2 linked regions of the Homo sapiens genome follow. The protein of the gene in region 2 purifies or fractionates together with the protein of the main gene of each other region. This does not show direct contact. Each region holds a gene or a part of one and is shown on either strand. Other genes may lie near its edges.

Evidence for each region.
Region 1: the proteins of ARHGAP29 (region 2) and CAMK2G purify together in Homo sapiens (affinity purification with mass spectrometry; 2 studies listed by BioGRID and IntAct, with this or other methods). This does not show direct contact.

What each region holds. Positions count from the first base shown.
Region 1 is NC_000010.11:73,839,224-73,854,243, forward strand, and holds part of CAMK2G (calcium/calmodulin-dependent protein kinase type II subunit gamma), read right to left. Parts: intron 14,024-15,020; coding exon 13,969-14,023; intron 13,097-13,968; coding exon 13,031-13,096; intron 10,111-13,030; coding exon 10,038-10,110; intron 9,893-10,037; coding exon 9,790-9,892; intron 9,387-9,789; coding exon 9,303-9,386; intron 8,860-9,302; coding exon 8,765-8,859; intron 8,569-8,764; exon of another isoform or gene 8,125-8,568; coding exon 8,002-8,124; intron 3,319-8,001; coding exon 3,235-3,318; intron 2,989-3,234; coding exon 2,946-2,988; intron 379-2,945; coding exon 316-378; intron 1-315.
Region 2 is NC_000001.11:94,163,752-94,178,771, forward strand, and holds the end of ARHGAP29 (rho GTPase-activating protein 29), read right to left. Parts: intron 14,417-15,020; coding exon 14,101-14,416; intron 13,970-14,100; coding exon 13,861-13,969; intron 10,999-13,860; coding exon 10,118-10,998; 3' UTR 5,154-10,117; downstream 1-5,153. UniProt on the Homo sapiens protein: GTPase activator for the Rho-type GTPases by converting them to an inactive GDP-bound state. Has strong activity toward RHOA, and weaker activity toward RAC1 and CDC42. May act as a specific effector of RAP2A to regulate Rho.

The sequences.
Region 1 (15,020 bases), on a different chromosome or scaffold from region 2:
TGTCTCTGAGGGCCCACTGTTGGCTGCAGCCCTCCCAGGGCATCGGGCTCTTGGCAAGGCTCCCGCTGCCCAGCTCCATGCCCCCAGGCTACTGCCCCCTGAAAGTTGGCAAGCGCCCAGCATGCATGGCTGGTTAGGGGGCTCCATAACAACGATGCGCTTGCAGATGCCAAGTTAGGTAGTCTGTCTGGCATGCCCATCTCAGCCCGCAAGCATGGGACTCGCCTCCCTGGTGAGTGGGCCCGGCATGCTGGCCCTCCTGGTGGGGTGGCAGGGGGCCGAGGCAGGCGGTCGGGGAGGACTCATGCCACGTACCTTGCCCGGCCAGGCCGGCGGCGCTCGCGGCAGGCGAGGCGGGGGCGGAGCTCTGCCTGCCAACTGAGGGGATACAGTCTCTCAGTGCACAGAGCCCCGCAAAGCCACGGGGCCGTCAGCAGCGAGCATGCCCCAGCGCGAGGCGCAGCCCAGGCGGCGTGGCCAAGCCAGCCGAGCTGGGGGAGCGGAGCGCCAGGGGCAGGCTGAGGAGGTAGGCGCAGCCAGCCCTGCAGCAGTCTGGGGGCCTGGGAAGACCGGGCTGGGCCAGGGCATAGGGAACACTGCGTCCCCACCAGATGGAGAGGGCTGCAGTGCCTGTCTCATGACCCCCTCCGGAGGAGGGTCCACAGCGAAATGCCTGAGCCGGTGAGAGGCAGGTGCCCCTTCTGAGGTAGCCCGGCCCTAGCTTAAGGCTGTGATGAAACGCCCTCCCTTCTAGTCCTTCCCTCCCTAGAAGCTAAATGAGCCCACGATGAGAGTGCCGGGGGCGCAGAGCAGCCCTCTCCCCTCTCTACATCCCACACACTAGAGGGACTGGCGTGGGGGTCCCAGGGAGGGTCTGTGGCCCTTGTGCAGCTAAGTTTACTGGTGGGCCCCAGCTCCATGCCCCCCAACCCCTCAGAGACACAGGTCCCTGTCTTAAGGGAGGTAGCCGAGAGAGGCAGCATTCTCAGTCTGTGTGTCACAGTGTGCTGAGGTGAAAGGTGCCCAAGAAATAAACCCTGAGAAAGAAAACAAAGGCTGCTGAAGCAATACACTCTGGAGGCCCCGATTCGCTGTTAGCCAAACTGCTAGAGTCCAGGATAAGCCACATCTCCTATTGGAGGTCAACTCAAAAAACAGCCCTAGAGAAACACACAGGTGCCCTTCCTTCTTGATTGCATCCATAGACACCTCTTTCTGCAGAAGCTTCCGGACAGACTCTGTCCTCACCTGTCCCAGAGTCAGGGCAGAAGAGGCCATCCTGGAATGCTTGCAACATTGTTTGTCTCCTCTGACCCAAGGCAAAGTGAGCTCAAAGGCCAGTCTAGGTCTGGCCAATAAGAACAGGAGGCTCTACAGGGATGAATAAAATGCTTTGTCCTAACACCCGATTTCCTGAAACCAGGATGCCAGTTTCCTGAAATGGAGGGGGAGGCTGATGTGGAGGCCCGGGGCTGCAAGACAGGGCCCTTGCTATTGACTGGCTGGGCTAAAAGAGAAGCAGCAGACTGTCTTCACATTTCTTCAACTCAGAGGGGAGAGAGGACAGAGCTTCGCTCTAGGGGCAACACCGAAACGCCCTTCAATGTCCTCTGGAAAGGCTCGTAGACCCAAAAAGTAGAAGCTGCGTCATTAAAGCACAAGAAGCAAGTGTGGGACTACAGTTGCAACTCCACCGGAGGCAGCCAGCCACGCTTCCCTGTTCCCATCTGCGAGAGGTGGAGCCACACCACAGTATGCCCGTCGTGGGTACCCATGACACAAGATCAAGCCCCAAACCAGGGTCAAAGGAGAAGGCCTAGGGCAGGGCACCACCAGCCCCGGGCTCACTATCCAGCCCTGGCCTTCCGGAGCTCCATGGCTCTCAGGCTACACCACGAAGCCCTAGGCTCCCTGCCTGCAGCATCCTCACAGCCAAGGCCCTGGCGTTACCTGGAGCCAGCGCAGGCGAGCCCAGCAGGACGGGTATTCAGAAGTGGCTCCCACTGAGTGGTGGCTTAGGCTCCCACACAACCCCCTTTCCATGGTGGTGCAGAGGGGAAGCAAGGGAGGGAGTCTTATTATGGGAAGGAGAAGGGGGGGTCTTGAACCAAAACAGTGAGGCAAGGGGTTAGAGGGAGGGAGGACCGGGGGAGATGGCAAGCTGGGCAGAGCCCTCTCTGTCTTCAGTCTCGACATTAATCTTTTCCTCACAAAAAAGCCACTGTGCTTCCCAATTGAAGGCAAACAATAATAGGGGTTGGGGTGAGGGTGGGGGCAAGAGGGGAGTGGAGTGTCTTGCATCTTAAAAATAAATGTCAAGTATGATTTACAAATTATTGGTCCCACCTCTCCCAATTCTTTATGCAAATTTAAGCAAGTTCCTTTCCCTCTCTCCTGCTGGTCTTTATTTCTTCACTGTTATAGCTAGTATCTCAGGGACTATTTTAAGCACAAGTCGCCACAAAAGGTTTAAACATCTGGAATAATTTCTATTAGTCATCTCCACTTGGACAAAATGAAGTAAGAGATCGTCCCAGCAGGCAAATGAATGGTGGCAATTTGGCAATTGAGAAGACTCACTGTACCTCATCTCTCTTTTCTTCCCCCAGCACATCCTCCAAGATCCTAGAATGGCTAAAATCTGTAAAGTGCTGAGAGTCTTCAGAGAGTTAAATAAGAATCCAGAGAAACAAGGTACATAGCAAGTTGGGCAGGCTACTCCTTGGGAAGTTCTAGGAAACAATTCACAAATGTGAGTCCAGCCCCCTGAATCTCAGGAGCAGGACTCAGCAGCAGCAGCAGCCCCTCAAAACAGGATCCTCACTCGCCCTGGTCAAGGTGTGGCCCAGGACGCCGAGGAAACCCAGCGGTGCCCGGGATGGCAACAGCCCATTCCTGATCCACTCACCTCGGCATAATCAAAGTACACAGCTGGGAAAACATACCTGAGAAGTTCCTGGAGACAAGCATGGTCGTGAGGATGGCACCCTGGGGAAAGAGGAAGGTCCTGTGAATTCACTGAGACCCTAGAAAAGGGCAGGCTGGTCTCAGGCAAAGGCAGGTCCTGGCTAGAGCCTGAAGACATCAGGCCTCTGGGCCCCCTCCCCTGTGACATGTACAACCTTCAGAGCCCAGCTCCAGCCAGGAGGGGAGCTTCCTTCTGAAATGGGGCAGGAGCCACACTGGTGCAAGGCATGATGTCAAGGAGGCTGGCAGCCTAGAAACGACACTCACCTTCAGTTTTCTCCGGGCATTGAACTTGCGCAAACACTCCACAGTCTCCTGACGATGCATCATGGATGCCACCGTGGATCGTTGCTAGAAACCAAACAGACAGGCTATGAGCCCCAGCCCAGATCCTCTGCGCCTCCCACAGTCCTGGCACCGATACCATGCCCAGGACAGGGTCATGCACTCAGCCACCCCAGAGTTGCTCTGAAGATGAAATGAGGTCACAGATGTGAAAACGCTTTTAGAATAAAAGCACTACCCGAAACTCAAGGTTACATAAGGACAACATGAACGTGAGAACACCATAACGGATGCTAGACGGGCTGCTGAGAGACCGTCCTATTCTTCCTTGGGAAACAGAGGCTACCGAACAGGAGAGTACCCTGGGGGCTGTGATCCTCATTCAGTCACTCCTTAGGCAGCTGTTTACTGAGCACCTACTGCGTTCCAGATGCTCAGCAGCGAGAGAACGGCAGGGTTCCTGCTCTCTACAGAGGACATTCCTTCCTTCCAAGAGCCCCTCTCCACACACCCCCAGCAAGGTCCTGAATGAAGCCATGATCCCAGAAGCTAAGGATCGTCACCTTGAAGCATCAATTCTTTTCATCATTCTGGATGTAATTTTTTTTTTTTTTTGCAATGGAGTCTCGCTTTGTCAGTCAGGCTGGAGTGCAGTGGTGCAATCTCGGCTCACCGTAGCCTCCGCCTCTCAGGTTCTCCTGTCTTGGCCTCCCGAGTAGCTGGGACTACAGGCACATCCCACCACACCCAGCTAATTTTTGTATTTTTAGTAGAGACAGGGTTGGCCATGTTGGCCAGGCTGGTGGTCTCGAACTCCTGACCTCAAGTGATCTGCTCACTTCGGCCTCCCAGAGTCCTGGGATAACAGGTGTGAGCCACTGTGCCCCGCCTTTTTTGGATGGAAATTTGTCTTCAATGTATTTACTGCTAACTTCCTGGCCTCCTTAAACAGAGTCCATGGGACACAGTCTACACTTCCTCAATGACTCAGCTGTCAATACCAGCATCATTATGTAATTTCAGAATATAGTGATGTCCTCAGGGGCTCGAGACACACGGGACTGCAGAGGGTAGGGCCTGCAAAAATGACCCCAGAACAGAATATTTCCCCCATTCTTGGGTGCCTGTTTCAGGTTGCTTGCCCTCTCCCCTTGCTGTTGCTGTCTTCACCAGCCTGTCAGAAAAACAAATCCTGGCACCTGCAGCCAGGTGCCCACCAACACTACGGGGCCTCCTCGCATCCTTTCCCTCACCCTTGGCCCACTCTTTCCAGGTCCGGAGGCAACTCTCCCCACCTTCTCTACCTTCCCCAAGTCTCTCATTTTACCTCCTCCTCGGTGTAAATTTCTCCAAAAGCAAAATGAGAGGTCATCAGCAAGAACCCCTTTCAGCTCAGACTTCCACTCACAAGCCGATCTTCACCTGCCTCCACACTAATAGAAGTCTCAGGGGGATCATGGTCATCCCCGGGATGGACCCCCTGCCCTTGGCTCAGGAGCCCCCTCTCTTTTTCTGCTGTCCAAACCTTTGCTTCCTCAATTAGCAAGGATCTTCAACTCTTTCCTCTGGACTAGATTCTTCTCTATAGATTATAGTTAAGCCTCTCCTTAAACAAAAAAATTTTTTTTTTTTTTTGAAACAGCATCTCACTCTGTTGCCCAGGCTGGAGTGCAGTAGCACAATAATGGCTTACTGCAACCTCCACCTCTCTAGGCTCAGGTGATCCTCTCATCTCAGCCTCCCAAGTAGCTAAGGCACGTTACCACAACCAGCTAATTTTTAAAGTTTTTTTTTTTGTAGAGATGGGGTTTTGCCATGTTGCCCAGGCTGGTCTCAAACTTCCGGGCTCAAGTGATCTACCTACCCTGGTCTCCCAAAGTGCTGGGACTACAGGTGTGAGCCACCGCTCCTGACCAATATAATCTTTAAAAAGAAATTTTTTCTTCTTTAGAGGCAGAGTCTCCCTCTGTCACCCAGGCTGGAATGCAGTGTCATTATCTTGGCTCACTGCAACCTCCACCTCCTGGGTTCTAGTGATTCTCATGCCTCAGCCTCCCAAGTAGCTGGGATTATAGGTGTGTACCAACATACCCAGCTAATTTTTTGTATTTTTAGTAGAGATGGAGTTTCACTATGTTGGCCAGGCTGGTCTTGAACTCGTGGCCTCAAGTGATCGCCTGCCTTGGTCTCCCAAAGTGCTGGGATTACAGGTGTGAGCCTTACATTAAAAGCTCCCCTGGCCCATCTTAATCTAAGTATCACCATTTATTTCCCACCTCAATGCCTAGCTCCCCATGCCCCTCCTCACCCTCACTCCCTCTTCGTCTCACTGAAAACAGGGTTTCATCTTTCTCTCCACTGTCTCAGTGAAATGATGAAACAATGGCATCTAATGGTCAGAGCCAGGGGATTCTTCCCCAACTTAATCAGGGACTCTTCTGCATCTGATTCCTGACGCTCCCTTACTGAGACCCCCTGTTTCTTAGCTTCTGGGTCTTCTGGAAGGTCTCACTCTCAGTGCTCTTTGCTGGGCCCCCTAACTCTCCCTATCATTAAATGCTGGTGTGTAGTGGCCGTCTCTTCTCTACTACAGCCAATAGAAGCTCACCGTAAGAACTCAACCAGCATAGGAACAGGCCCATCTACAGCATAGGAAGAGGCTATTTCTACAGCCTCACTACCAACTACACAGAAATGACTACAATGTGGATTTCCAATTTTTAGCTTCTTTTCTAATCTCTAGGACCATATTTCTAACCACCCACTGAATGTGTCTGGCTGGAGGTTGCCAGACTCAGCAGGCACAAAATGAAAACCATCATCTTGGCCGGGCGCAGTGGCTCATGCCTGTAATCTCAGCACTTTGGGAAGCCGAGGCGGGTGGATCATGAGATCAGGAGATCGAAACCATCCTGACTAACACGGTGAAACCCCATCTCTACTAAAAATACAAAAAATTAGCCGGGCGTGGTGGCGGGCACCTGTAGTCCCAGCTACTCGGGAGGCTGAGGCAGGAGAATGGCATGAACCCGGGAGGCAGAGCTTGCAGTGAGACCGCGCCACTGCACTCCAGCCTGGGCGACAGAGCGAGACTCCATCTCAAAAAAAAAAAAAAAAAGAGAAAACCATCGTCTTGTCTCACAAACAAGCTCCTCCTCTGGTTTTCTTCTGGGTCAGTGAGGGTACAACTCTCCGCTCAACTTGAAACCTGGCCTCTCTCTTCTTTGCTCCCCCCAAATCCAACTGGAGAGAATTAAATCCTTTAGGTTCTCTCAAATATCTCTTGAATTTCAACACACTGCACATTCCCCCATCCTTACCCTCTGCTGAGACCTCACCTGGTCTTGCTTAGACTATTCCAACTATTAAAAAAGCTTCCTGAGCTCTCTGTCTCCAGCCCTTTTCTTTTAAAAATTTTCAATTCCCTTCTTTTTTTTTTTTTTTTTTTAAAGAGGTGGGGTCTGACCATCTTTCCCAGGCTGGAGTACAATGACTATTCACAGGTGCAATCATAGCTCGCTGCAGCCTCAAACTCCTGGGCTTATGATCCTCCTGCCTCAGCATCCCCAGCAGCTGAGACTACAGGCACATGCCACCATGCCTGGCAATTCATTTCCTCACAACTTCCAAAGTGTTCTTAAATGCAAATTTCATTCTTCTTTAAAACCCTTAAATGATTCCCTATGTTTTCAGAATAAAATCCAAACTCCTGAGGCAGAAACTTGTATGTCAGGGAATCTTTTGCCCCATTCTCTTGCATTCTGATATTTGCAGCCTCATCGACAACCAAACAACTCAACATTCCTTCAACTCACCATAGTTTCCCATAACCTCTCACTGTGCTAAACTCTGTCTGCAGGTTAACGTTCTGAGGACCTCGTTATTTGCCAAGAACAAGCACAGGGGTGTCACCTCCTCCGTGCAGCCTTCAGTAACCCCACCACCCACCAGGAACAGTAGGAGCTCCTGTACTCTCATTAGATTCTTGTACCTACTTGTCACATTGTAACATGACTGCCTGTTTGAGTGCCTGTCTCCCTAGATGATCTTTTGGGGCAGGGACCATGCCTCATTCATCTTTGTATCTCCAGCACCCAGACGGTAACCAGCACCAAAGAGGTATTTAATAAACACAGAATGGACAGATAAATAATGCCTCGTGGTTGTCAAGATGCCTAACTCTACCAAATCCTCTTCTTTGTCTGAAAGTTGATATTTCAGCTTGAAAGAATTGTGTATAAAAACAGAGTACGTCAACCCACACTGATAGCCTAGAGGACTCTCCTAGGACTTTAGCGCAGAAGCTTTATGCCTCAGCTTTTATGCTTTTAATGACTCAGAAACCCCTTCTGTTGATTTGTTGGATCTTGGTCACCACTCCAGTGGAGTTGAGATCTGAGTATGAACCCCAGCTTGGGAATTCACTTTGGGTTTTGCCAGCTGCTTTCTATCACCGGCTACCTGGAGTCCACAAGGGTCAACCTGAGCCCTCATCCAAGAACAGAACCAATCCCAGCCTGACAGCCATGAGTGGGGGAGAGAGGAGCAGTGGCCCACCAGCCCCATCAGCCTCCCGAGTCTCCCTGGTGACATTTATTGACCCTGGCCCTCAACAGTCCTCTGCCCGCCTGCTCAGTTATTGCTTGGGGCCCAGAATGAATCTCTGCTGGTAAGAAGGAGGGGGTGGTGCCGAGGGCACACAGAAGGCTGACACCCCTGAGCTCCTTGGCCACTAGCAAAGACACTTACACAGACCCACGGGTGCTTGAGAGCCTGGTCAGCCGTGATGCGCTTTGCTGGGTTTATGGTCAGCATCTGGTTGATCAAGTTCTTGGCTTCAGGAGTTACCGTGTCCCATTCTGGTGATGGGAACTAAGGAGCAGGAATAGGGAGAAGAATGTGGTATTGGTGAGCTTCATACCCTGCAACACTGGTTCTGTCTTCAACTCAACTCCTGTAATTGGGATACTCTGTGGTACCTAAAGCTGTGACTGGCAGAGTTGGAGAAGCCCTGCGGCTATTCCAGAACCTGTGTCAACTTAAAGACTTGGAAAGACAGACAGAACAGTCATGTTTAGAATGCCAGAACATCAGATTAGAGCGGGAAGGGGACTCCAACATTCTCTGGTTTAAGCCCAGCTCTATACTTAGGAGGGAACAGAGGCTCAGCAATGTGTCCAAGGTGCCACTGCAGTGGAGGGAGTCTCCAGGCCTTTTGTCCCTGTGTTACACAGCACACCAATGAGGCCGCTCCATTCTTTGCAAGTAAAGATCAAAGGACTTCAGTGGACTCCTCAATTTTAGTTATGAAGAAGGCTGTGCAAAAGAAAGTTGCTCCCTGGGACATAGAGTGGCAAGAATTGGGCCCTGGATGCCCATTCCTGGGTCCTCAAAGTCCCCTGACACCCCCGTATCACGTGACACACTAAACAAGCCTGCTCCCTTGGACAGAGCCCGAGGAGCAAGGACATCTGCCCTTCCTGGCCTGGCTGCCCGGCTCTCTGGTCCTTACATCATAGGCTCCAGCCTTGATCTGCTGATACAGCTTGTGCTGATCCTCATCCCAGAAGGGAGGATAGCCCACCAGGAGGATATACAGGATGACCCCTACGAGACAGAACACACAGGTCATGGGGGTCAGTCGCCTACTTCCCTGAGGAACCAAGAAAAACCATGCAGGGCTCAGAGCCACCTAGAAAGGCAGGGGCCATACCAGAGTCAGAAGTGGATGCCAGCCGATAATGCTATGCTACCAGCCCCTCCTGCTATGCCTCACACTTCACGTCACCAAGTCACACCAGGGATTTCTTTAGGCACAACCCATCCTCTAAGGCGTGGGCAAATCCCTCTCCAAGAAGGATACAATGTCATCCCAGAAGTACGCAGGGAGGAGGGTGTGATGGGAACAGCCATCCCAGGGGCAAACACCATAATTTCACATACACCAGGCACGTGTGTGACCTGCAAGGAATAGCGATGCCTCTTTCTTGCCATCATCGGAAGTTGAGGGCCCTTAACAGCGAAAAGCTGAGAGCGTGGAATGGGCTTACCGCAGGCCCAGATATCCACAGGTTTTCCATAGGGATCTTTCCTCAAGACCTCAGGGGACAAGTAACCTGGGGTGCCAGCAAAACCTGTAGCAAAAGAGAGGGCAGAGGCATACTGAACCCACTTTCTCTCTCGTTAAATCCACACCAGCCATTTCCCCCAAGTCCCATCTTATTCCTGCTGCTTTTGCTACATAAACTCTCAGCACATGGGCAGCAAGAGCTGACAGGCTGGGCTTCTTGTAGCGCCTGGAATCTGAACCAGACGGCAAAGCCGTATGCCTACCAGGAACTCCAGCTCCTTCCCACAGGCAGCAAGAAAGCAGTGCTGACAACAGCTAGACTTACTGTACTGAGTCGCGTACGGCCAAGAGAGATCTCGGAGGCCAGGACCATTAAGGGTCTGGCTTCTAGTTCTAATAGAGGAAGGCAGATCAGGAAGAGGAGGAAGGGCGGGGGCTGCATTCCGGGAAGACAGGATCACCCTTACCAAACCAAGCCTGCTGCTCTCCCTGTACTTCGATGGCTAGGCCAAAATCAGCCAGCTTGACGGCGGCACCCTTGCATTTACTCGCCAGCAGCAGGTTCTCAGGCTGCAGAAGAAACACAGAGAACCTTGTGAGCACCCACCCTGCAGCCCAGAGGAAGCCTAGTTTGGGCCTACGCAGTACCACTATCTGGCACCAGGTGGCGCCAACACTTCATGAGCAGAGGCACGGAGGGGAGCCTGGGTAGTACCTTCAGGTCCCTGTGGACGATGTCATGCTGGTGGATGTGGTTAACACTCTCCAGAATCTGATGTATACAGTGGCTAAAAAAGCAGAAGGAAAAGAAATGTTAGCGCAGGGTTAAACCACCTCATCCACATCCACAACCACATGCTGCAGACTAAGGCATGTGACAAGGGGCCACGGATTCACAGAGAATCACTTAACGGCCACTGGAACCTTAGACTCTGCACATCATCTTGTTCAACCTATTTAAAGAAAGAGGAAACCGAGGCCCAGGCAGATGCAATGGTTTTTCTAGGATCACCGCTAGAACGGGTTCCTCTCACCCCCTTTTGACTGGAAAGGTCTAACACAACCAACTCATTTCCAAGAGATCAGGAGACAGCCCAGAATCCTGAGGAAGAAGAGAGCATCCAATCCCTTCCTTCTTTCTCTTTCTCCATACAGTAACTTTGTTCTTGGAGAAGAAGCTTGTGCTGGCAACTTAGGAAGGAGAGTCCAACTAAACAACCTAAGCTACTTTGGCGGTGGGTGCACTCATTCATTTCCCTAAATGTTTATTGAGTGCCTAGGATAATGAAGATGGACAAGACCCAATAGCTGCCCTGAGGTCTGGCATCCAGTAAGGCAGCTAAAACAAGTACAAAGATACCTTTAAGAAACAATGTACTTAAGAGCTTCCAAACAGGGCATTTAAGGAGCACTTCTGATGATTTTGCGTAGAGAAAAAAACCCAAAGTTATTTTATTATTTTATTTTTGAGACAGGGTCTCACTCTGTTGCCTGGGTTAGAGTGCAATGTCGTGAACACAGCTCACCGCAGCCTTGACCTCCTGGGCTCAAGCAATCCTCCCACTTCAGCCTCCCCAGTAGCTGGGACCACAAGCATGAGCCACCGTGCCCAGCTAATTTTTGTATTTTTTTGTGGAGACAAGGTCTCACCATGTTGCCCAGGCTGGTCTTGAACTCCTGAGCTCAAGTGATCCACCCACCTTGGCCTCTCAGTGTTGGGATTACAGGCGTGAGCCACTGCGCCCAGCCACAGTCACACACGTAAATCAGACTGTCCACATAGCAAACCATCCTGCCATCCCTGTCATCAAACTCCTGACAGGGAGCGGGGGCAGTCTAGAGCAGTGGTTTTCAACTGGGAATGAATTTGCCGCCCGCCCCCCCCCACCGCAGGGGACATTTGGCAATGCCTAGAGAAATTTCTGGTTGTCACAACTGGAGGAGGGGTGCTCCCAGCATTTGGTGGGCAGAGGCCAAGGATGCTTCTAAATGTCTGCCACAATGCACAGGAGAGGCCTCACAACAAGGAAGTACCTGGCCTAAAACGTTAGTAGCACCAAGGCTGAGGAACTTGGCCTAGAATATAGACCCCCGTCATCAGGCACTATCTGGTATATTAAGCACATCTGCAGAGCATCCCAGTGTATGGGGCTGGGTGGCCTGGACTTACTATTCCTAAAATCTGATGCTGGGGATGCCACAAGAACCAAGGGGTCGTACTGGGTCCCTGGGGGCTGAAACTCGGGCCTCCCCATAGGACACAGCCCAAGAGTGGGCCACAGAAACTTTAAGACTGAGCTATAGAGGCGAGTCTCCACAGAGATGTATAATTAGAACAGAGCCGGGCTAGCAGGGAGCGCCTTCTGGCCAAAAATGGCAAAAGTGCGAAGTGTCCCAGCAGAGCCAGGCCAAGCCCACTGGTACAGTCACCCCCCCTCAGGGCCCCCTCCCTATAGCTCTCCCTCCTCCCCGCAGGCTCCCTGAGCCATCACTGCCTCCTCCGTCCCAGAGCCTCGTCCTCCCCTGCTGGCACTGGAATTCATCTCCCCACTTGAGAATTCTTCCCGAGGCTGAAGCATCTGAAGTTGATCAGCAAACATTGGCCTCTCAAGGTTGAGAAATTCGTGAGGAAGCTGCACTCCCCCACTCTCCAGAAGCAGCCAGAGCTGCCACATAAGCCAGATAAGCTGCAGGCAGGATGATCAAAACCAGGTTGTAGGGACATCACCCTCGAGAAAAGCAAGGCTGGGGGAAGAGCCAAGGCGGGAAAGGCAGGCTGAACAGGCGCCTGAGAGCGTGGGTGAGGGAGGCACCAGGGATTCCAGGGAGGGCAGAGGCTGAGGCATGTGGCCGGGGAACGGTCCTCAAGTTGGAGGAGCCCCACGGCAAGGCTGGTCATGGTGGTCTAGGGACAAGGTGACAGAGGCTGAAAGCTCCCGGGGCTCTATGGTTGGATTATCAGCCCAGAACTCTCCACTCCCTCAGGACAGAAACCATGTCTTCTGCACCTCTGGATCATGCCAGAGCCTCAGCACAGTGGCTTGAGCACACCAGAATTTGTCAAAGGAAAGAAAAGGGCAGAGGGGGACATTGGGCATGGTGGCGAGTACATGGTAGTGCAAAAAAAAAGTATTTCTGGGGTCACAGGGTAAAGGAGACTTGGAAAAGCTTTGTAAAACATTCATTTGGAAGTGATTTTTTTTGTGGGGGGGGGGAGGGGGACATAGTCTCGCTCTGTTACGCAGGCTGGAGTGCAGTGGCATGATCTTGGCTCACTGCAACCTTCGCTTACAGGTTTAAGTGATTCTCCTGCCTCAGCCGCCTAAGTAGCTGGGATTACAGGCACACACCACCACACCCGGCTAATTTTTTTGTATTTTTAGTAGAGACAGGGTTTCACTATGTTGGCCAGGCTGGGCTCCAACTTCTGACCTCAGGTGATCCAACTGCCTCAGCCTCCCAAAGTGCTGGGATTACAGGCATGAGCCACTGCGCCTGGTTAGGAAGTGCTGAATTTTTAACTTCTAATATCACCCACAGTATGCAAGCCCTAGCCCAGCTCAACAGAATCTTTCTCCAGACAAGAGCTATTCTGATCTTCCCCAAAGACTATTCAAACAGGTACAATGCTGGACCCCGAAGGTGGCCAAGACTTCCTTCAGTCCTAAACTCCAGAGCTACATTTGAACTCTCGGGCCCTCATCCTACCTGGCATCTGCTTCACTGTAGTACTCTCTGGCCACAATGTCTTCAAACAGCTCCCCGCCGGTAACACTGCAACCAACGGGAAGAAGAGGGTCAGAGGCAGAAAGGGTCCTTTGTCCAACCCCAATGTCCAAGAAGAAACAGGGTCACCCTGTAGAATGGCTTTCAGAGAAATCCCAACTCCCCATGCATTTCATCTGAGAGCTCAGAACACACTCGATCCTTCAGTGACACCCGGATTCTCCTTGAGGTATCATGGGCCGTCCCTTCCTTCCGGACATTTCTTTTTCCAAAATGCACAGATTCACTAATAGTCAGGCAGAGATGAAGATACAGGGATCTAAGAGAAAACAGTCAACCTACCCCAAAAGTCACAGCTTTGAGACCAACATAAACACTAAAATATCGCTGCCCAGGAAGGACAGAGCTACTACTGAAGTTGAAGAGTAATGAGACCAATGACACAGAGACCCAACCCTGAGAATCCTGGAGAGGAGTGTCCAGGAGGTAAGAGCCACTTTTAAGACATTAAACCACAACCAACGTGGAGGAGAGACCCAATCCAATGGAGCCTGGTTTCCGACTAATGAAAGCTACCTCTGATTTCTCAGGATTTTTAAGGTCATGCAAAGAGCTGTCTTTTATTTCTTCACTAAGGACAGCACACTGAGAAACAAGACAAAGGCATCTGTGCAAGGCGTGCTGCTGAACAGAAGTGCGAGAGGAATGCTGTCCTGGGGTTCAGAGCCCTGGGGGGACGCTGGGGGAACATGGAGACCCCCTTGGTGGGGGCAGCAATCTGCCCCAGTCAAATCCTTTCCCTCGGACAAAGGAGGGGGCCCTGGGCGGAGGCTGGAGAGCCTGTTTAGGCCTCTTCCTGAGCCTTCATTTTGAGTCAGCTAGAGGGAAAGGCCCCCACACCCTCAGAAAGTGGCACTTACAGGTCAAACACGAGGTAGTGAAACCCTTCTTCAGAAATACTGTCATGGAGGCGCACTGCAAGAGAGGAGATGGGGACAGAGATTAACAGAGAGAAAACTTGGAAATCCTAGGCTTCTCCTCAGCAGCCCCACCCCTGCCCCATCCTGTCGGGCTCACAGGGCTCTCCAGAAGGAGCAGTGGGGGGAAGTGGCGACGTGCCCAGTGCCCCCCAGTGCAAGGCTATGCAGCCTGGGAGCCAGAGCCTGGCGCTCTGGTTGCCACCTCAGACTCAGGCAAGAGAGAAAAGCTTCATGGCTAAGAAGTCAAGATGGAGAAAAGCCGGAACCTTCCCAGAGGGCTGGTCTCCGAGAAGGTGGTCCTGGGATATGATGCACGATGGTGAGATGCAGCGTGAGCAGCACCTAGCAATGTTGACGGCAGGGGACAACAATGACCAGATGGGAAAGCCAGAGAGCTCTTCCAGAGCAGTAAATGGGAGCAGAACTAAGGGGTGGGGAAGAAGGTGGAAAGGCAGAGCTCAGCAGGAAGGCACGTGGTGCAGGATAATGGATGGTGAGCCTGGAAGGCCACGCACACATTCAGGCAATGACAACAATAACAGCTTATTAAGTGCTTACTATGCCAGGCCTTGTGCTAGGCTCTTGCATACATTACTGATTCTGCAAGCATTTATCAAGCACCTACTATGTGCTGGACCCCACGCTAGGCAGCGGGATTCAGGAGGAACAGACAGAGTGCCTGCCTTTGAGGAGTTTATTATTCCTTTCGACCACCTGAGATGAATGTTATTCCCATTCTACAGATGAGGGCACCAGAGGCTCAGGGACACAAAGTCTCTTAACAAAGGCCAAAGAGCTTCTAAGTGGTGGGTCAAGATGTGAATCCAGTGCTACCTGACTCCAAAGACTGTGGTCTACACCACTGCTTCCCTTAAGAAATGTGGGGCAGCCCCCATATTCAGGCAACAAAGCCCTGGCATCCAAAAGAAAGACCACTTACAAATGTCCCTAAAGCAGCATCGCAGACAGGTCCGGGAGGGTGCCACTGGAAG
Region 2 (15,020 bases):
GTCTCTGCTGCTGGCAAATTGGGCACTCAGTAGTGGCGTAGCCAGGTCAGCCTTGGTGAGTGGAAGTCCATGTTGCTGAGCCCATGCGTAACCTCCATCCCTGCCACCATGGCCACTTTGTTCATGGGTCTGTTGGGCGATGAGAGGGGTGGCTGGGGAAAGAGACTGAGTGGTATCCACAGAATGGGTCATTCTATCCACTTGATTATTAAAATCTGCCGTTGCTGAGGTCACCCGTTGGTGAGCACTCACATGGGATACAAATATCTTCACGGTTTTTGGCCACTCAGAGAGGTCCATCCACATTCCTCTTCCTCAAATATGTCACCAATTTTCCAATCATGCTTCTTCCACTGATTCAAATGTTAATGTAGTGACTTGATGACCCATAGTCAAATATTCAGTTTCCACCAAAGCCCAGTAACAGGCCAAGAGTTGTCTCTCAAATGGAGAGCAGTTATCTTCAGAAGATGGCAGGGCCTTGCTCCAAAATCCTAGAGGCCTCTGCTGTGATTCACCTATGGCAGCCTGCCAAAGGCTCCAAGAAGCATCCCTATCTGCCACTGACACCTCAAGTACCAGTGGATCTGCTGGATCATATGGCCCAAGTGGGACAGCAGCTTCCACAGCAGCCTGGACCTGTTGCAGATCCTTCTTCTGTTCTGGAACCCACTAAAAACTGGCAGCCTTTCAGGTCACTCGATAAATGGGCCAGAGTAATACACCCAAATGAGGAATGTGTTGCCTCTAAAATCCAAATAGGCCCACTAGGCATTGTGCCTTTTTCTTGGTTGTAGGAGGGGCCAAATGCAGCAACTTATCCTTCACCTTAGAAGGAATATCTCAACAGGCCCCACACCACTGGACCCCTAGAAATTTTACTGAGGTAGAAGTTCCCCGAATTTTAGTCAGATTTATTTCCCATTCTCTGGCACATAAATGTCCTACCAATAAATCCAGTGTGTTTGCTACTTCTTGCCCACTGGATCCAATCAGCATAATGTCATCAATGTAATGGGCCAGTGTGATATCTTGCGGAAGTGAAAAGAAATCTAGGTCTCTGTGAATAAGATTATGACACATAGCCGGAGAGTTGATATACCTCTGAGGAAAGACAGTAAAGGTATATTGCCAGCCTTGCCAGCTGAAGGCAAATTGCTTCTGGTGGGCCTTATGGACAGGAATGGAGAAAAAGGCATTTGCCAAGTCAATGGCTGCATACCAGGTACCAGGAGATGTGTTAATTTCCTCAAGCAATCAAACCACATCTGCTATAGCAACTGCAATTGAAGTCACCACTTCGTTAAGCTTACAATAATCCACTGTCATTCTCCAAGATCCATCTGTCTTCTGCACAGGCCAAATGAGAAAGTTGAACAGGGGTTTGGTGGGAATCACCACCCCTACATCTTTCAAGTTCTTGATGGCAGCACTAATCTCTGCAATCCTTCCAGGGATGCAATATTGTTTTTGATTTACTACTTTTCTAGGTAGAGGCGGCTGTAATGGCTTACATTTGGCCTTTCCCACCATAATATCCCTCATCCTACCAGTCAGGGAGCCAACACGGGGGTTCTGCCAGCTGCTAAATGTCTATGCCAATTGTGCATTCTGGCACTGGGGAAATGACCACAGGATGAGTCTGGGGACCCACTGGACCCACTGTAAGTCGGACCTGAGCTAAAATTCCACCTGATCTCCATAAGCCCCTACTTTAACTGGAGGACCACATGACGTTTTTGGGTCCCCTGGAATCAATGTCAGCTCAGAGCCAGTGTCCAGTAGTCCCCGAAATGTCTGATCCTTTCCTTTTCCCCAATGCACTGTTACCCTGGTAAAAGGCCAGAGATCTCTTTGGGGAAGGATGGGAGAAAGATTCACTGCATAAATTGTCAGTAATGTGGTGTCCTTCCTCAAGGGGTTCTGGCTTCCCCTTCATTCAAGGGGTTCTGGGTCTGTGAGCTGGCTCAAGTCTGGAAATTGATTGAGTGGCCATGATTCTCTGTTTTTATAATTCAAATTAGTCTTTTGTCCATTCAACCTAGAAATTTCCTGCTTGTATAAATTAAGTAGGAATGCAGTAGGCCTCCTATCCATTTCATTTCTAGGAACACCATGATTAATTAGCCAAGGCCAGAGCTCTAGACACATCAGACTATTCTGATTGTCGCTTTGCCTCTGCTATCCGTTATGGTAACTACGCCCACCTTGCCTTTGATGGTTGAGTGTCACCACTTGGCCCCCGCTACCTCGGGATCCAATTATTCCCATTGTATTTAAATTTTGTAGTTGAGTGACTGCAGTTCCCATCATTAGATCTGACACACAGAGAAGAGCAATTACAGCAATTACAGGGCTCTTCAAAGATGCAGGTGCTGCCCTTACAAATCTATTCCACAACTCAGTGTCCCTAGTTTCATCAGGGGGATCTGGCAGTCCCACATGTCCCCATTCCAAGTTTCAGGGTCCCATTCTTTTCCAGTAGATGCCCTCACTTTAACAGTAAACACCTGGTGCATGCATCTTTTGTTACAAGTCAGCCACTCACATGATAAGAGCTTGTGTTTGTTTTTCCACAATTTCAGCTCTTTCTGTTCAGGAGATAAGATTCTCACTCAGGGCAGTCTTAGCAGATTTGAGGCTATCTGTTTCTGAAGCTGGGAGACAGAATCCCTGAGTTCATAATTTTCTTTCATCACTTTGTCCACTGAACATAGGAACAACCAACCAGCTTCATTATGTTCCTTGGTTCTCCACATATGGTGAAAGGTATTATGCATAGAGTCACTAAACTTGACTCTCACGAGTAATGAATCAGGAGGGTCAAATGCATTTATTTTGCATAACTCTCTAAACAGTTCACACCAAGGACTATCAGTGTTCTCCATACTATTAGAAGTAGAGTCCTTAGCATTTTGGGTTCTAATCATATTAAGCAGCCAACTCCAGAAACCCCAAACCAATGAAAGAACTCCATCCTTAATATTCTGTTCCTCTAGAACCACTCCCAATACCAAAATCTGTATTAGTCAGGGTTCTCTAGAGGGACAGAATAGGACACGCACACACACACACACACACACACAAATATATGGAGAGTTTATTAAGTATGAACTTACACAAACACAAGGTCCCACAATAGGATGTCTGCAGGCTGAGGAGGAAGGAGAGCCAGTCCAAGTCCCAAAACTGAAGAACCTGGAGTCCAATTTTCAAGGGCAGGAAGCATCCAGCATGGGACAAAGATGTAGGCTGGGAGGCTAGGCCAGTCTATCTTTTTCATTTTTCTGCCTGCTTTATTTTCGCTGGCAGCTGATTAGATGGTGTCCACTCAGATTAAGGGTGGGTCTGCCTTTCCCCAGCCCACTGAGTCCAATGTTAACCTCCTTTGGCAACACCCTCACAGACACACCCAGGATCAATACTTTGTAACCTTCAATCTAATAAAGTTGACAGTATTAACCATCACACCTGCCTAAGTAAAGATTAAATGAGATGATCATCACAACGCATATTTGTTGCTGTTGTTGTTTAAAAAAGTGAATGGAGGGCCAGGTGTCGTGACTCACACCTGTAATCCCAGCACTTTGGGAGGCCGAGGCAGGCAGCCCACTCAAAGTGAGTAGTTCGAGACCAACCTGGCCAACATGGTGAAACCTTGTCTCTACTAAAAATACAAAAATTAGTGGGTGTGGTTGCGTTCACCTGTAATCCCAGGTACTCGGGAGGCTGAGGCAAGAGAATCGCTTGAACCGGGAAGGCAGAGGTTGCAGTGAGCCGAGATAGCGCAACTGCACTCCAGCCTGGGTGACACAGCAAGACTTCGTGTCAAGAACAAAAAACAAAAAACAAACAAAAAAAGTGAATGAAGGGAAAAATAGATTAAGTTTTCAATGTAACATTGTTCATAGTAGGAAGAAAACCTGAAAGCAACCTAAATGCCCATCAACAGTGGGATTAATACATTGTAGTATAAACCCAGTAAAATACTTTAGTTTTTTAAAAAATGAAAATAAACTATAGTTACAATTGTATAGGTAGCTTTTTTTGTTTTAAAGCCAAGGAAGGATTAACATAAAATTCAAGATAGTGGTTACACCTGCTGTGAGAAGTGACAGGCATGTGATCAGGAAGGGGCATCCTGGTGGTTCCTTAACATCCTGATGAGGGTGTTGGGGCAAATGGGAATTCGTTTTATAATCATTCTTTAAATGATACATATATATGTACACACTGCTGCATTTATGACTCAGTTTTAAAACAAAAAAATCATTTAAAACTCTCATTGAATCTTAATCATGAGACTTATGTATCTATACTTGGAGATGGAGAATATGTAGACCTTGGTTCACCGTCCTAGTCTCCTGTGTTGAATCACAACACATTCTACTCATTTTTTGGCAACTACTAGATGAACTCTTACAACTTTGATTAAAATAATTGATACAGAAGATTTATTTTGCTGGCAGTAGATCTCAAAAAGCAAATTTCTGGTATAAAATGATCTACAGAGAATTTGGCAGATGGCAACTACTGTGTGTCAGGTCTGTGTCTACAACTGTAAATAAGATCTTGCCATTCTTATAGTCAGGCTGTGTTATAGTCATCCCGATCTTTTTTTTTTTTTTTTTTTTTTGAGACAGAGTCTCACTCTGTCACCCAGGCTGGAGTGCAGTGGTGTGATCTCGGCTCACTGCAACCTCTGCCTCCCAAGTTCAAGCAATTCTCCTGCCTCAGCCTCCTGAATAGCTGGGATTACAGGCACACACTACTACGCCTGGCTAATTTTTGTATATTTAGTAGAGACGGGGTTTCACCATGTTGGTCAGGCTGGTCTTGAACTCCTGACCTCGTGATCCACCCGCCTTGACCTCCCAAAGTGCTGGGATTACAGGCATGAACCACTATGCCCGGCCTGATTTTTAAATTTCAGTGCTGTATTCACTTATCAATGAGCAATGCCTCATTGGTAACGGTCACTATTCATCTCATTTCCAGTACTGTCAACACTATAAAAGGAAGACTTACAATATCCTGTAACGAATGGGCATGACTGCATCCAGAAATCTGAGACAGGTTTTCATGTCATGTACAGCTTTTTGTTAATTGTTTAAAGCTGAAGATGAACTCAAATAAAACTTGTAACTCAGAAGCATAGCCAATTAGTCGTTTAATCTATTTTCTGAACTGCATGCTTATTTTATGGATGCAGAGTAGATTGGTTGAGTGTGAGGACACTTAAAAATAGCATGATACAGTTATTGTAGGAAGTATTAATATTTAAAAATTGTTACAGCCAAGACCAAAAAGTGAGAACCACAATTCAATATTTTCTATAAATTTCATAAATGTCTATGTTTAAACATTCCTGGTAAATATGTATAATCGTACACTTTTAAACTTTCTCTGATAAATTCAGTGAGTATTCAATAATTGCTCATTATCAAAAGGTTGTGAATTTGTCTCTCTTCCAGCCAGATGACAGGAGCCTAGGATTCCAATGGTGTGCTCAGGACTGACATCACTGGGGTCAAAGATTCAGCTGCCATGGTCCAGGCTCCAGGCTGGGGAGGATGTTAGGGATTGGTGTGGTCAGGACCAGCGCTGCTATGACTGCGGATTTATTTGGCATATTTGGGACTGGGTGTGATGAGACAGCAGCTGGCATGTCAAGAGGTTGAGGGAGGGAGGAAGAATGAACAAATTATTTAGGATTATGGGAGTCAGGTTTCTATGAGAGAAGGAAGTTACAAAGATGGAAAGGGAGACTAGATTAACCTCAAAGGATTGAATTGAAGGTGTCAATGTGAACTCAAAGTTTTCAATACGTATGTATATAAATAGATATAGAAGTAGGTGACTATTCTTGAATGTGTGTAGACACACGTTTTCCTTTGAGCTGTTCACCAATAAGACAGTGAGCCTTTCTCAGGTCTTCATTTCCATATACCATTTCCCATTTAAAGAAACCAGGGCTCCTTGGAAAAAAGGGCTAATTCTAGACTTGGGGTAGGGAGTAGGAAAAAGTGTAAGATGAGCTCGTAAAAAAAATAAGAGGGGAAAAAGCAATGAGGCATCTCTAAGGAACACAGAAGCCAGCTTGAAGAGACTCCCAAAAACCAAATCGGGGAAAATTTCAGCATGAAAATAAGTGACAATAATACACTGTCACTGAATAAAGCAGGCATTCATGAATCTATACTGATTTAAGTGAATGAAGGAATAGAGAAGGAAGAGCTCTTCCTTACAGTAGTAGGATGCCAACCAAGGCAGAAGCCACGGACTCACCATTTGACAACCAAAATAGTAATTGGTTCAGTCAAGAATTGTCAATAGACTAGCCCGTGACAATTCGATGAGAAACAATACATTTACAATCTTTAAGAATCTCCTCACAAATTACTTCCTAATTCTAATTTTACAATGGAGAAACCTGGTATATACTATCTGAACCAAGTGACCAAAATTAATACTATCAGGTATAAGACAAATTGACATTGTGTGCATCCTGGCATGACACATTTGAGTATAGAGCATCATTTCTGTAGTATTGGACAAAAATGTCTATCCTAAACCTTATGGGTCTTATCTAATGATAAACCAAAACTGAGGAACTTTCTACAAACTGGCCAATCCTCCTCAAGTGTCAAGGTCAAAGACAAGTCTGAAAAGATGTTCTGGACTGAATGAAACAAGAGATAGGGCAACTAAATGCACTATGTGGTCCTGGATTGGGATGCTGAAACACAGGAACATTACTGAGGCAATCAAAATCAGCAGATTGAATGTGGTCTATGGATTAGATATCATGATGTCAATGTCAATCTCCTAAGTTTGATGGTTGTACTATGGTTACGTAGGAATGCCCTTGTCTTAAGGAAACACACAGTAGATAGAGGTAATAATGCAAAAAATATTTTGGTTGGGATTACATTGAATCTACAAATGTAAATGAACATCTTTACACGACTGAGTCTTCTAATTCGTGTACATTATGGAGTACTACATTTATTTAAGATCTCCTTAAATGCTTCCTGACATGGTCTAACATTTTCTCCATCAAGATCTTGTACATCTTTTGTTAGACTTATTCTTAGGTAGAGTATTTTGTATTTTTTAATGATATTGAAGAGATCTTTCTAAAAACTTCCATTTCTGTTAGTTGCTGATATCTAGGAATACAACTGACTTACATACTGATTGTGAATGTAGCAAATTTGCTAACTCCTAGATGTTAACTGAATAGTCTACATATATAATCATATCAACACATCACCATAATTTCCTGCCTGTAGGAAAGAAAAACCCACAGAATTCCACTGACTATAAGTTATTTAACAATATACAATGGTTGTCATTTAGAGAGATGTTTCCAGTTGTATAAATACTGTAACACAACGATAGCTGGGAATAGTGTAGCCATAGTACCATCTTTAAATCACCCAAATAACTGAGGTACAATTCTATCTGCTTGTGAGTTCACTAGGCAACAAGTCTCAGGGATCATATAGTCTTTGTCTCTGTATCAAAACAAATACACTGCCTAAGGTACACTAAAAGTAATTTAACATACTGTACTCATAAATTCTAACTAAGTTCTCTGTAGGTAAAACATGGCTAGGGAAGTTATGATCAACCCTTCAGAAATGACTTCTTCTGAGTCGTTTGGACAATACGCATCATCTTGGACAATACGCCTCCCACAAGGCTTCCTGGTGTTCTGGCAGCACTAACAGGGCTCCTGCTGTTGCCCTTTCCTTTTGGTCACGTATCTTTCCATGTTGCAAAAAACAACTTCTGGATAAATGATTTCCACCACACTATTAGATAGCACAACACAGTGCACACTGTGGATCCTCTAGAAATAGCAACCTCTTCTCAAGAGATACTTGCCTCAGGGCCCCAGGAAACTAGAAAGCATCTAGAGGCTTAAGGCTCTACGCTGGACAAAGTGCCAGGGAGCCCTAAAGGCAGAAAGGACCCAAAAGTGAAATTCTCATTTTTAAGCTGTGAGGGAAAACAGAGAAATGAGTTTATTACATGATATAACCTTTGGGTGGGCTCCATATATTAAAAGAGAACTGAAGAAGTTTAAAAGTACATTTTCTAAGTTTTAGTATAGGATGATGATAATGTTCTGGAGATGAATAGGTGCTCATGGTTGCAAAACAATGTGAATATACTTAATGCCACTGAACTATATGCTTAAAAATGGTTCAAACAATATACTTAAAAATGGTAAATGTTATGTGTATTTTACCACAATAAAAATTTTTTAAAGTTGCATTTTCTATTGTTAAAAACTACCAGATATTATTTAGTAATCACAGTCATTAAGAGCACTAACCATCAAAATCTGACAGCCCTATGTTTGAGATTTGACTCCACCTGTTACACCTGTGGAACACTGAAGCAAGTCATTTAACTAAGCCTTAGTTTCCTTATCTGTAACACAGAAATAATAACATGCTTACCCACCCATTATAGGTTGCTGTGAACTTGAAATAAAATAATCTATGTAGCACCTTGGCAAAGTTCCTGGCACACAGAGAAGGCTCAATACACATGGGCTCTAATTTTCTTTTTAGGTATTCATAGCAATATGATTATTTTATATTTTGTACAATGAGGACTAAAAACAAGCCTTCAGAAAAAAAAGGGCTGGTTATTGCTCCCTAGACCTTTACATCACATAGAACTATAAAACAGGTTTCCATAAAATTCATTCCACATTGTAGTCAACGGATGTATGATCCTAGGTGTTGACTTCTAAGCCAATGGTTAATAACCTTAAACTCTCATACTGTAATAGGCAACAACTGAAAAGAAGCCACGGGAACATGAAATAATTTAACAAGTTGATATATATATATATATATATTATCAAGTATAACACAGTCATACAAAAACATTTAGTAGAAATATAATTCACACATAAAAACAGTCTACTTATTTTTTGTCCCTTTTATATCCTATTTTAGGCAAAATGATAAAACCCAGAAAATAACAGGAATGTACTAGTCCTAAAAACTGGACCTTTTATAAATGAAACAGATCCGATCACCTATACCTTCTCTCAAATTCCAAATAATGAGGCTTACTGACCTGTACTCTCAGAATCAACTTAAATAAATTTTAGCTTGATTTGGATGAAATATGTACTTTCAGTTGTTGACAATCCAGGTAGAACAAGTACATAAAATGATTCCTAAGTCAAAACATTTCATACAAAAGGAATGGTTTTAACCCAGACAAATCAAGAGGAAATGCACTGAATTCAAAAACTTCTGAAACAGGCATTTTTTGGACCATTTATAAAATACTAAAAAGTTCAGAACTGCTGAAAAACAAAAGTTTATATAAAATAAAGCCAAGGGGTGAAAAACTATCAAATGTATTAAAACCATCTAAAGCCAAATATAATATAACTGAATATATAATTTAGAAACAGGTTTAAGTGCATTTTCTTTGTACAACTGACTATCACATGTAAAAACTGGCAATTAATTAAAATGCAATTAAATACAGATTTGCAAGCCTTCTGGCCATTATGTAAACATTTAAAAATTAACTGAATTGCCAATTGAAAAATAAGAGCTTACATACGTATCTTAAAAAAGCACAAATGGTGAAAGATGCACTATAAAATTGTGTGACAAAACATATGCATACCAACAAAGATCTTTTTAGGCACTTGCATTCAGAAACATTCCTTTTATAAATAAGCACTTATAACAGTTCCACTCCAAAAAATAAACCTGATTTTCCCAAATTGCACCTATTAGTTGAGACTATATCATATATTAGGGATGCATTCAAATGGACCATTTGGTGGGGAAAGTCAACTGAACTTTAAAAAATACGAATCCACCTATCTTATTCACAACTTTAAAAATACAGAATTTAAAGATAATTCCAGTGAGGCACAAATGTGACCCTATCAAAACATTCTACCATTCAGTATTACCAACAGAGGATAAATACAACAACAAAAGGCAAAACCCATGATTTGGCAGTCCTATACAAAAGAGGCCCTGTCAAAACATTCTTTCACAAAACAAGCACAATACCACAAAATAACACAACAACAACAAAAAAACCCTGAAATTTGACATCCCTACACAAATTGTGGAATTTCACCTTCGAGGTCTTCAAACTGTTGCATTCGTTTTAGCCTTGGTCTCTGACACATTGGATTCACATCAGGCAAGCCAAGCTCCTCAGAGTCTTCTTTAGGTTGACCAGTTGCTTGCCCAGGACAAGCTGATGCTTTGTCTGGGTCTGGCATTGACTTCACCACGAGACCGTGGGGATCGTGATCTGTGCCAGGAGGCACTGCTGCTGAGGGTGAAGCTGGCTTCTCCTCATTCCCCCTGATACTGATGATGGGAGCATGTGGTTTATAAAATGTTGTCCAATGTTGAGGCTGCAGTGTTCTGGGTGCTCTGACAGGAGCGAGAGGGTAGGAATCTGAAGACCGTCTCTCAGATGCCTCTCTCACTGACCTGACTGGCTCTGCATATGGCTTACTGGGTTGAGTGGCATTGATAGAATGGTCCCCACTAATCTGGAGGCTTGTTGTCACTCCTTTTTCCTGGAGTGCACTGGGCATGATCATTGTAGTCTTGGCAGTTAGGCTGTTTTGTTCATACTGTTTGTCCTGAATTTTCTGTAGAGTTTGCTGGTCAAAGCCATTAAATTTGGAACAAACAGTAGTAGCAGCGTCTTTTCTATTAACTCCTTCAAAGGCAGGATTCTTGCAAAACTTGTCTAAATTTACATTTCCCATATTTCTGCCATTTCTCTCATTAGGAGGACTTGCAAGAAGTAGTCTATCTACAGGCAAACTTACAGGTCTAATCTTGGTCCTTGGAGTATGCCTCTCCACATTGTTTGTTGACCTATCAGATTTCAGAGAAAGTGGCTTAGGGGTTTTACCATCTTCTATCTTTTGGGATGCTGATTCAGCCTCTTGGTCTAGAAGCAACTGTGCTTTGTCTGAAAATGAAAGAAATCTATTTAAGTTTGTGGCACATGGTTAATAAGAGAGTTTGAATGAGTTAGAGATGAACACTCTATCAAGACAATATGAGTCTTACATATTTTTTCCAAAATAATATTCTCAGTTACCTATGTGGAGGAGTTAAACATTTGCACAGTATTAAAGGTGTATATTGAATTTAAAAGTTCAAATTTTTTACTCATTTAAATCAACATGAACAGCTACAAAACACAAAAAAAACACTTGCTGAGTAACTTCTTTTTAAGTGCTGTGCATGAACAAGTACTTTCTGGGTCAAAAGACTATCACAATTTCAATAGGCAGACATTGGAAAATTAACCTCAGAAAAGTGACACTAATTTACACACCAACCAGATGTAAGTGTGCCCTGAATCCCAAGGATTTTGCCAACTCACTCAATCTGCTTTTCAGTTACACTCAACCCAGTGAGAGCATATGATATTAGATGCCTTAGATGCTCTCCATATCTGATCAACTAATAAAGCATAAAATCCATTCTGTCAAATGAAGGCTGAATGCTTTTAAGTTAAAAAGTGCCATTTTCCCCACCTGCTCCCGGATTTTCTTTCTATAGTCCGAACCCACAGTCCATGTTTTCTCACTTAGAAGCCTCAGTTCCTGCATCTATCCTAAAAAATTCCAATTCCAGGAATGTTCCAGCCCTCCATTCTCCTGCTTTTCTGTTCACTGCTGAAACACATCCACCAACTCTGTGCCTTGACGCCATCCTGACTTTAAGCTACAGTCGGCCCCAAGCACAGCATGCAATCCTTTCTCTGCCACCCAGTCCTTCACCCACATCTCTTAGGCAGTGGTTTGCAGACAGGTGCCCACCAGAGTCACTTTTTGGTCATCGTCTCATCTGAACTTCTTCCACACCTGGGACTGCTGGCCTCTCTTCCCTGGGTTCCAAGGCTCTTTTATTGTTTTGTTTTGTTTTTGTTTTTTGAGACAGAGTCTCACTCTGTCACCCAGGCTGGAGTGCAGTGGCATTATCTTGGCTCACTGCAACCTCTGCCTCCTGGGTTCAGGTGATTCTCTTGCCTCACCCTCCTGAGTAGCTGAGATTACAGGTGCCTGCTACCATGCCCAGATAATTTTTGTATTTTTAATAGAGACAGGGTTTCACCATGTTGGCCAGGCTGGTCCTGAACTCCTGGCTTCAAGATCCGCACACCTCAGACTCCCAAAGTGCCAGGATTACAGGTGTGAGCCACCACACCTGGCCCAAGGCTCTTTTGATTTGCTTTCCCAGGTCCTCCACACATTTATAGAGCATTCTAAGGGACCTGGTTCCTTGCAATTGGACTCTAGGCACCAACATATATTCTTAAATTTCTGAGGGAAAAACTTAGAGCATAATGGAGAAGAGCACAGACTCTGAAGCACAGTTGCCTGGGTCCTGGCTCAGCCCTGCCTGCCACTTCTGCACTGGGCTAGGCAATATCACTGTCCTATGTGTCTTCATCTGCGAAATAAGACTCCTATGTGTATCTATGTTGCTGTGTGATCTAAATGATCTACTAGGAAAAGTGCTTAAAATTATCTTGTATGTAATAAACACTGGAAAGTGACATTTATTATTATTACTGTTCCTAAGAGCTTCATGGGATAGCCACAAAGGTTAGGTTTAGTAATCAGAACTGGGTTCAAATGTATTAAGAGAACAACCTTTGGCATTACTTAGTCTCTTTCAGACGGTTAGTTATGGGTTGAATGAGGATAATGCTATTTACTTTATAGCACAGAACTATTATGAAGATCAAATAGAATCAAACAAATAAGCACAGTGCTTAGCACAGAACAGGCAGGTACCTGGTGAATGTTAGTTCCATTCCTTTTTTTTTTCTTTGAGATGGAGTTTCTCTTGTCACCCTGGCTGGAGTGCAATGGCACGTTCTCGCCTCACTGCAACCTCTGCTTCTCGGGTTCAAGTGATTCTCCTGCCTTAGCCTCCCGAGTAGCTGGGATTACAGGCGCCCACCACCACACCTGGCTAATTTTTTGTACTTTTAGTAGGCGGGGTTTCACCATGTTGGCCAAGCTGGTCTCAAACTCCTGACCTCAGGTGATCTGCCCGCCTTGGCCTCTCAAAGTGCTGGGATTACAGGCGTGAGCCACCATGCCCGGCCCTCCTTTCCTTTTTAGACCCTATGATCACTGATACTTGATTACACATTAAATTTAACATATATGGCTGCAATGTAAAAAACTGGAATTTAGCTATAACAATGTAGAAATGACAATACAAATGGAAGCTTTTCCACCAGCTTAACAACTAGCAATGACAGCAACTAATATTATAAAGAGAAAATAAGTGAATAAAATGATCGCAGTCAAGGAAAGAAAAAAGACATACACATCTCTGTGTTTAATAGGTTAAATGTAGGCCACAGGTAAAAAGCATGTCAAAAAAAAAGTAGGACTCTAAAGTTTTTGAATTTCAGGAGTCTAGTTGACTCTGTATGAGCAGTTAGCTCAATGCACTGAACTACGGAACTGGAAGATACTAACGAATATCACATTGCTCAACACATTTCTACCTTGATTTTAGCTGATGGCAAAACTCAAAAACAAAAACAAAATTCAGAAGGAACACAAAAAACATTATAAACTCCAAGATGTCTTATTATAAGAAAGACTTTTATGAAGAATGACATTCATTTAAATGCAAGATACACTAAAAGGCAACTTTCTCAATGGCTAGCCAAGATTTGTTAACTAATAAAGCTTCATTCTCTGGCTTCCCTCATTGCCCCTCACCTTGGTTTTAATCACGGTTCTACTGGTAAAATTTTAAGCCAGCAAACATATTTTTTTTTTACATGGCTACTCACCACTGAGACATGCATCACATTTTCCTAACGCATTTTGCTTGCGTTCTGATTCCTCAAATGATGTAGCTCGTTCAAAAATTTTGCTTTCACTCTCTGAAGTATGGATATCCTGTTGATGCAAGATAATTTTTAAAATGGAAGAAGTAAAACATAACCTCAAAATAAACAGTTCAAAGATCTTTAACTTATTAACATAAATATTACAAAGTTCTAATATAATTCTATAAAGGTCAAACTCACTTCCTTTGAAGAAAAAAATAGTGACTTCATGGAACGTTCAATGTCTCTTTCTTCTGGTGATAACAGAGGCTTTGGAAAACAGCCTTGATCAACAACACCTATGCTACACATAACATCTTGTGGTTGTAGGGACCCATCGAAGATCTTCTGTGAGTAAGTAATGAGAAACTCTACCAAGCGTGCTTGATTTGAATACTCTGCAAGGGAGGAGATGGTGATAGGAGCAGTTGTGGGCCTTGGCCTAATGAGACTTGGTCCAAATATCACCCCCAAGTTTTTGGAGTTCATCTTGTTTTCTTCTGCATGATCTACTACCCTGCAAAGTAGAACACATAAAGTTGTATGAGATTTTCCTATTAGAGTTCCTTGACTGTAGTTTACTATGGAATAGAGAGGGTGGAGGGAAAATGAGCTGCACAAAAATACTAGGGGGAAAAAGTCTAGGAAAAGGTTATATTTATTTGATTAAAATATTGACCACATGCCAAATAGAGTTTCACAGTTTCACAGTATTGGAATAAATTTCAAGTTAAGTAGAAGGAACTACTATAGTTTTACCAGCAGAAAGAAAAAATACCCCTAAAAACTGCTCCCATCTCAGTATATGGTATATCCTCCCAAGTCCTTATACTGGGAACTTAAACATCATTGTCAGGTGTCTCACTACCCATCTCCAAGTCTAGATGATTCTCCCTTCTGAAGATCTCAGTTCCAACACCATTCCCACTCCTCTGGCCTCACTTCAAGCTCTTACCACCTTTTATTTCTATGATTATTCAAGGAGATCTGAATTGTAATAAAGGCCTCCTCTCCAACTTAGTTTCCATATTGCTGCCAGAAATATCTAAAAGGCAAATCTGAGCCTGTCAAATTCCTAGCTCAAAATTCTTTAGTGGGTACTGAAGGAAGATGGTCAGCGC